2 separate regions of the Homo sapiens genome follow, and region 1 is linked to region 2. Evidence: fine-mapped expression QTL. A gene starts in region 2. The other region holds a variant in brackets. All regions are shown on one strand. Distances are from middle to middle. Region 1 has its middle 24 kb from the start of ASCC1. Region 2 holds the start of MICU1 (mitochondrial calcium uptake 1).

What was found. PIP is the estimated chance that this variant, and not a neighbour inherited with it, causes the effect. A credible set is the group of variants that fine-mapping cannot tell apart.
Region 1: its variant is the best candidate, but not a certain one, in a credible set for the expression of MICU1 in whole blood (INTERVAL, PIP 0.55).

Annotation. Positions count from the first base shown.
Region 1 is chr10:72,238,559-72,242,947 of GRCh38, forward strand. No RefSeq gene overlaps it. Among named protein-coding and RNA genes, the nearest start is that of ASCC1, 24 kb to the left of the region's middle. The variant C/CA (reference allele first, on the strand shown) is at 2,491.
Region 2 is chr10:72,624,103-72,628,491 of GRCh38, forward strand. It overlaps MICU1 (mitochondrial calcium uptake 1), which reads right to left and starts at 1,977. Exons shown (of 12, transcript NM_001195518.2): 1 at 1,908-1,977. RefSeq lists enhancers at 1,744-2,281, 1,832-1,981.

The DNA of each region.
Region 1 (4,389 bases), 390 kb before region 2:
GGCTGTGGAACAAATGGAAGCCGTTCCAAAGCAGTCATATCTCATGTGATCCCATCTACGCGATGAGCCAAGGCAAAGGGCACTGGTGGTTCCCTGCCGTCCTCATGGGCTCCTGCCCTGGGCCTGGTGGTAGGTTCACATGTCAGCAACCACGAGCTAATCTCACCTCACAGTTACTCTAATTTCTCGTGTCTGTCAAGTTTCCCAAGGAGGAGTTGTTTTCCCAAATCAGCCTGTTTCTTTTTATAATATAAGCTGTTTAGAGGCCAGGCACAGTGGCTCACACCTGTAATCCCAGCATTTTGGGAGGCCAAGGCGGGCAGATCACCTGAGGTCAGGAGTTCCAGGCCAGCCTAGCCAACATAGTGAAACCCCATCCCTAATAAAAATACAAAAATTAGGTGGGGCCAGGTGCGGTGGCTCACGCCCATAACCCCAGGACTTTGGGAGGCCGAGGTGGGCAGATCACCTGAGGTCAGGAGACCAGCCTGGCCAACATGGCAAAACCCTATTTCTAGTAAAAGTACAAAAATTAGCTGGTGTGGTGGTGCACGCCTGTAATCCCAACTACTCGGGAGGCTGAGGTGGGAGAATCTCTAGAACCCAGGAAACAGAGGTTGCAGTGAGCCAAGATCATGCCACTGCACTCCAGCCTGCGCAACAGAGTAAGACACTGTCTCAGAAAAAAAAAAAAAAAAAATAGCTGGGTGCAGTGGCACACGCCTGTAATCCCAACCACCCAGGAGGCTGAGGCAGGAGAATCTCTAGAACCTGGGAGGTGGAGGTTGCAGTGAGCCAAGACCGCACCACTGCATTCCAACCTGGGTGACAGTGAGACTCCGTCTCAAAAAAAAAACAAAAGAAAACCAAAAAAAACCTGTTTAGAGCAGGTAATGAAACAACATACAATTTGTTACAGCAATAGAGAGGATGTTCCTTTCCAAATGTCTGTCATTCTTTCAGCAGACGCTAGCACTGTGTGTCTAGTGTCTGCTAGATGCTAAGGATATGCTGTAAAACAAGACCCAGTCATCAACCTCAAGAAGTTTATAAATAAATATTAAGAGGAACAGAAAGGTCATTTTAAGTGTAATAATTGCTCTGATGGGGAAAGCATGAGGTGCTGGACAATCCCATAGCAGAGACAACTAATCCAGCTGGGCCAGGCATCAGAGAAGGCTTTAATGAAGGATGAGGTTTAGGCTGAGACCTGAAGAAAAAGTAAGTGGGGTGGGAAGGAAGAACTTTATAGGTGGAGGGAATACAATTTGCAGAGGCCCAAGGGTGGGAAAGGGCATCTTGCTTTTGTGGGGCTGCGGGTGGTTCGTTATGATTGATTCATAGGTGATAAGGGCAAGAATAAGGCAGAGGGTAGGACTCGTGGGCTTTGCTAAGGAATCTGAACTTCAACCAGAGGACAGTGGGGAACCACTGATGAGCTTGAGGCAGGAGCATGACAAGATCTGGTTATACTTCAGATAATTTACTTGGAGGGAATAGTGGAGAATTGGTGGTGGCGAGAGCCAGATTCCTTAGGAAGCCTTTGAGGTCGTCCAGGTAAGAGATGACTATAGGCCAAATTAAAGGTGTGGATATGACTGGGCGCAGTGGCTCATGCCTGTAATCCCAGTACTTTGGGAGGCCGAGGTGGGCGGATCACCTGAGGTCAGGAATTTGAGACCAGCCTGGCCAACATGTTGAAACTCCATCTCTACAAAAATACAAAAATTAGCCGGGCATGATGGTGGGTGCCTGTAATCCCAGCTACCCAGGAGGCTGAGGCAGGAGAATCACTTGAACCCAGGAGGCAGAGGTTGCAGTGAGCCAAGATCATGCCATTGCACTCCAGCCTGGGCGACAGAGTGAGACTGTCTCAAAAAAAAAAAAAAAAAAAAGATGTGGAGACAGAGGATGGACTTGATTTGAGAAGTGGCAGCGGGTAGTGGCTCACACCTGTAATCCCACACTTTGGGAGGCCCAAGTGGGAGGATCGCTTGAGGCCAGGAGTTAAGACCAGCCTGGCCAACATAGCAAGACCCCCACCTCTAAAAAAAAATTACAGATTAGCCATGCATGTTGGCACACACCTGTAGTTCTAGCTACTCCAGAGACCAAGGCAGGAGGAGTGCTTGAGCCCAGGAGCTCAAGGCTGCGGTAAGTTATGATCGTGCTATTGCCCGGGTGACAGAGCGAGACCCTGTCTCAAAAAAAAAAAAAGGCTGGCATGATGGCTCATGCCTGTAATCCCAGCACTTTGGGAGATGAAGGGGGGCAAATCACATGAGACCAGGAAGTTCGAGACCAGCCTGGCCAACATGGTGAAACCCCATATCTACAAAAAAGAGAAAAATTAGCCGGGCATGGTGGTGGGCACCTATACTCCCAGCTATTCAGGAGGCTGAGGCAGGAAAATCGCTTGAACCCGGGAGTCAGAGGTTGCAGTGAGCCGAGATTGCGCCATTGCACTCCAGCCTGGGCCAGAGCGAGACT[C/CA]AAAAAAAAAAAAAAAAAAAAGTCATATACAGGATTCAGTGACTGGTGGAACTTGGATAACTCAGAGAGGACACCCAAGTTTTCTTGTGTCAGGAGCTGAGGGACTAGTGGTACCATTCACTGAGATGGGGTACAGAGAGGGAAGCAGGCTACAGAGTTGTTCAAAAGGCAAGTGACTCCACCGGTCTATAGTCTGGAGAGTGAGCTGGGCTGGAGTTAGATTTGAGACTCAGCAGCCTGGAGGTGTTTATTAAGACAAAGGTGGAGAGTGGATAGATTGTCCAGGGAGACAGCCCATGGAGTGAGGAGAGAATCACACCAGGGAGGGATCCTCAGGGCATGCAGACATATAAGGGACAGGCAAAGTAGGAAGATCCAGGAAAGCAACTGGCAGGAAGTCCCCAGAGAGACATGGAACAAGGAATACGGCGTCACAGAAACCAAGGGGAAAGCACATTTTGAGAAGAAGGCTGCAAACAGCAGTATATGGTGCAGCCAAGCAATTGAGACAAGGGATGGAGAAGGCTTACTGCAACCTCCGCCTCCTGGGTTCAAGCAATTCTCCTGCTTCAGCCTCCTGAGTAGCTGAGACTACAGGCGCCCGCCACCATGCCCAGCTAATTTTTGTGTTTTTAGTAGAGACGGAGTTTCGCCATGTTGGCCAGGCTAGTCTCTAACTCCTTACCTCGGGTGATCCACCCGTCTTGGCTTCCCAAAGTGCTAGGATTATAGATGTGAGCCACCACTCCCTGCCTGCTGTTGGGATCTTACCATGGAGACTGTTGGTGACTTTTTTTTTTTTTTTTTTTTGGAGACAACATCTCACTCTGCCACCCAGGTTGGAGTGCAGTGGCATGAGATCACAGCTCACTGTAACCTCGCCCTCCCAGGCTCAAGCAATCCTCCCATCTCAGTCTCCTGATTAGCTGAGACTACAGATGCATGCCACCACACCTGGCTAATTTTGTGTTTTTGGTAGAGACACGGTTTTGCCATGTTGCCCAGGCTGGTCTCAGACTCCTGAGCTCAAGCAATCCTCCCGCCCTGGCCTCCCAAAGTGCTGGGATTACAAGGTCACCGTGCCTGGCTGGTGACCTTGTCTTAAGAGCAGCCATCTCTGGGTAGCAGAGACAGAGCCAGAATGCTGTGGGGGAAGAGTGAGGGGAGGAGGGGAAAGTGGGGCTAAATCCAGGCAACACTTTCCAGAAGTTCAACGGGAAGGGGAAGCAAAAACTGAGGGACTGAGAGGGGGACAGTTAAAGGAGAATGCATAGCAAAGAGCTCGTTTTTTTCTTTTACAATGGGAGAGGTCAAAGAAAAAGGGGATAATTGGCCAGGCACGGTGGCTTACACCTGTAATCCAAGCACTTTGGGAGGCCGAGGCAGGTGGATCACCTGAGGTCAGGAGTTCGAGACCAGCCTGGCCAACATGGCGAAACCCCATCTCTACTAAAAGTACAAAAATTAGCCAGGCATGGTGGCAGGTGCCTGTAATCCCAGATACTCGGGGGGCTGAGACAGGAGAATCGCTTGAACCTGGGAGGCGGAGGTTGCGGTGAGCTGAGATCGCGCCATTGCACTCCAGCCTGGGCAACAAGAGTGAAACTCCGTCTCAAAAAAAAAAAAAGAAAGAAAGAAAAGAAAAAGGGGATAATTGACGGACGGATCCCTGAGGAAGTGGGAGGAGGTGAGAGCCAGAGCCTGGCTGGCGTGAGGCGGGAGAACAGGATGTGCTGCTGTGGGTAAATGTGTAGGAGGGGCAGCAGGAAGAGGGGGCATTCCCATCCAGTGGCCTCTCTTTTCTCAGTAAAGGAGAGGCAAGTTGGCCTACTGCCTGTGTCCCAGGGTCAGAAGGCTTGCCAAACCTATTCAGGGGCCTGTTGCAGTGAGAGGCCTTGC
Region 2 (4,389 bases):
CATAAGATCTGAAGGAGTTGGTCAGTTAAATATTTCAATTATAATTATTTTGCATAATATTGCATTATGGAGAAATTTCATATCGTTTTATTCTTTTGTTGTTGTTTTAAGAGACAGGGTATCGCTCTGTCGCCCAAGCTGGAGTGCAATGGTACGATCACAGCTCACTGCAGCCTCAACCTCGAGGGCTCAAGCCATCCTCCTGTCTCAGCCTCCCAAGTAGCCAGGACTACAGGCATGCGCCCAGCTAATTTTTGTGTTTTGTAGAGATGGTCTTGCCATATTGCCCAGGCTGGTCTCAAACTCCTAGATTCAAGGGATCCACCCGGCCTCCCAAATTGCTGGGATTATGGGCCTGAGACACCACACCCAGCCTGTTTTATTCTTAAACACAGGAAAGTTAGTCTCAAGATGCACTTCTTAGGAATGTAAACAATCTACTGAATATAGTAAATATAAAGGAAGACAGCAATAAACACTTTTGTTCTCTTGCATTTATTAGCTTCTATTAGTTTCTATCATTCTTTCCCTTTCTCCTCAGGCACACAAGCCACTCCAGAATATTCACTTTTTGTTAATATTATGTTTTATGGCTCTCAGTAAGGACACTCAGAAGATGTCAGAGACACTTGCTTGATATATTAGGTAGCCAGAGTGATGTTCTTAAGTGGAAGAGACAATCAGGGACAAACCAAGGATTGGGACAAAGAGTAGCTGGAGGCAAAAGCCACCTTCCTACAGACAAGTGGCAATGGGTTCTAAAGTTTTTAGGATAAGGCAATATTCAAAAAGCTCATTACCTGGTCCACACCAGAAACACAGTAGGTGGGTCATTCTGGCCAACACCTTTGTCTCAAGATACTGACGTTTATTATTTGTCATATGGTCCAATGAAACCTAAACTCTCCTACAGCTATCCACACCGAACTTGTTTCACCTCATGAAATGCAAACTCCTTTCTTATACTGCTCGATCACTTCCCTACGTGCCCCAAAGGGATGTTCTAATATAAACAAAGGCATATCAAAGAAGCCACCCAAACAAGTGAGATAGAAACATTTATTGATAAATAGGAAGAAAATGGGCGTTTCTAAGGTACCACAGGAAAAATAAAATATTTTACTCTAGTCCCTTAGCTATAAGATATTTATTCTACTTATATTTACTAATGGCCACCGTATTTTTTAAGACATGGAAAATTGGAAGGTAAAGAAACCATCAACCATAAGATTACAGAGAAGGCAACTTGAAGAACAGTTTGTTTTAAACTGTTCTCCCAACATTCACATAGAGTCAATAACATCTAGCTCTTTCTCAAAACAGCCTATGGCCGGCCAGAATGCGACGGTGAAAACAAAACAGGGAGAACGTAATGAAAACGGGAAGGCGCTGGAAAAGATAAAAACTGAACAGTCCGAGTAGCCTGCACTTTGTATTTCTCCTTTGAGTCCTCACTGATTTTCCACTTATTTCGATTCAGTGGTTAATATTTCTCCGTATTAGAAATCCATCTGTGAACTCCCGCACCCACTTCTAACCACATCCACAAATTCCAGGAGAGCCAGTCAAGGCTACCAGAGTGTCCCAGTCGCCTGTGAGGAGGGGGGCGTCGGCGCCAAGTTGCGAACCCGGCACTGGGAGAAGTTCTCCCGGGACGGGAGAAGGGACGGGTTGGGGTGAAGGAAAGTGGAGGACGGGAGGCAAGCAAGACTACGGACTCCTCTCCAAAAGCTGAGCGCATCAGGGAGAGACAGGTATCCCGCCAGACCCGAGAAGTAGCCGGATGCCCGGGGCGGACAAACGGCCAGCCACGAAGCCCAGTTCCCTAAGGCTGTCTCGCCAACCCCCTTCCCCTTCGCCTTCCCTAAATTGCTGTCTCCTTATACCCTCCAGAGTCCAAGACTCACGCGTCCAAACACGAGCTCCAGCAGCCTCTCGGTCAAAGCCGCCCACCTCTGACAGCCATAGAGATGAAACAGCGGAGACAAACCTCCACCCCCTCCGCCCACTCTCACGTGACTCTCCTAGCCGCTGGGCCTGTCGGGATCGTGGAGACAGGCGTGTGGGAGGGGCACAGAGGAAAAGGAACGGGGAGGGGCGGGGAAATCAACGCGCCACGCCCCAGCCTCGGGCCCCGCCCTAGCCCCGTCACTCCCCCTTACTCCCCTCAGCGTTTAGGCGGGAAAGCTGGAGAGCTCCCAGAAGCTCTCGGGCATTTCTTCTGGTTTTTTTCCCCTCCACAAGGGTCATAGGAATCTGTTGAGAAATTTACTGTGGCTTGTAACACCTCCTCGGTACCCGTTTTCGTGTTGGCTATGTTGGCTAAGCAAAAAGGAGTTCGTGAAAAGAAAACTGGACCACAGTGAGTTGGAAATTGTTTCTTTCCAACTCCGTTTAGGTTTTCTCAGAGATTAAATGTTCCTGTTTCATAACCTTGAGACTTTTTTGGATTTAGAAACCCTCACCACTTCCTCTGGTGGATGATTTTGTCAGGTGTTTTATTTGCAGACTAATATTATTGCAGAGTTTATAATCTCTAGAAGCCACTTAAAAACATGTTTTCCCTTGAAGAATGTGTTTTTTGTTTGTTTGTTTGTTTGTTTGTTTTGAGATAGAGTTTCACTCTTGATGCCCAGGCTGGAGTGCAGTGGAGCGATCTCGGCTCTCTGCAATCTCTGCCTCCTGGGTTCAAGCGATTCTCCTGCCTCAGCCTCCCAAGTAGCTGGGATTACAGGCATGCGCCACCACGCCCTACTAATTTGTATTTTTGGTAGAGACGGGGTTTTTCCATGTTGGTCAGGCTGGTCTGGAACGCCCGACCTCAGGTGATCCGCCCACCTCGGCCTCCCAAAGTGCGAGGATTACAGGCGTGAGCCACTGCGCCCGGCTGAAGAAGGTGTTTTTATCAGAAAAATGGGATGGCAAAGGATCCTCACCCCTGCTGTGGAAATAGGATGGAAATATGACTATAATACCAGAGAATTTTTTTGGGGGGGGGGCAGCGGGGTGTTGGTTGGTTGTTTGTTCGTTTGTTTTGAGACGGAGTCTCGCACTGTCGCCCAGGTTGGAGTGCAGTGATGCTCACTGCAACATCCTCCTCCCAGGTTCAAGTGATTCTTCTGCCTCAGCCTCCCGAGTAGCTGAGATTACAGGCACGCCCCACCACGCCCGGCTAATTTTTGTATTTTTAGTACAGACGGGGTTTCGCCATGTTGGGCAGGCTAGTCTCAAACTCCTGACCTCGGGCGATCCTCCCGTCTCGGCTTCCCAAAGTGCTGGGATTAACAAGTGCGAGCCACCTCGCTGGTCCCAGAGAACTTTCAAATAATTTTTTTTTCCCAAGAATTTACGTAGCAGAGCTGTGGAAAAGGCAACAACCATGGAAACAAAGCCAACAAAACCATCCCTGGGGTAAATTGTGAAGTAAGCAGAATCAACTCTGTTTTCTCCATTTCTTCTCAGACCCAACTAACCTAAGTACAATAGATGATTGTGTTCATGGCTCTGTGCTAGCGCTTTACATACAACCCAGTGCTTGTCTACAACCACTCTAGGATGGATACTGTTTTATTCATTTGCAGATAGGGAAGCAGGCTGACACCCCTAGGTAATGCAGTACATGCAGTAGCGGGACATAGACCTGACCTGAAGGCCTCTGAGGCTTCCACTCTTAAATGATGTAATTCAGGCCGGGCGCGGTGGCTCACGCCTGTAATCCCAGCACTTTGGGAGGCTGAGGCGGGCGGGTCAGGAGATCGAGACCATCCTGGCTAACACGGTGAAACCCTGTCTCTACTAAAAATACAAAAAATTAGCCAGGCGTGGTGGCGGGCGCCTGTAGTCCCAGCTACTCGGGAGGCTGAGACAGGAGAATGGCAGGAACCCGGGAGGCAGAGCTTGCAGTAAGCCAAGATCGTGCCACTGCACTCCAGCCTGGGCGACAAAGCGAGACTCCGTCTCAAAAAAAGAAAGAAAGATTTGCTGAAATTCAATTCTAATTTTAGGCAACATTTGTCTATATAAAACTAATCAGTCAAACTAACTGTTAAATAACATTTAAAAACATAAATCATTGTTTCTCAAACGTTTTGGTCTTAGGACCCCTATACACTTAAAAATTATTGAGGACTCAAAATAACTTTTATTTATGTGTGTTATACCTATCGATATTTACCATATTCGGCCAGGCAGAGGCTAATACCTATAATCTCAGCATTTTGAGAGACTGAGATGGGATGATCACGTGAGGCTAGGACTTTGAGGCTACAGTGAGCTATGATCATGCCACTGCACTCCAGCCTGCGCAACAGCGCAAGAACCTGTCTCTATAAACTTTTTTTAATTTAGCATATGAGGACTTAAAATTGAGGCCGGGTACAATGGCACCCA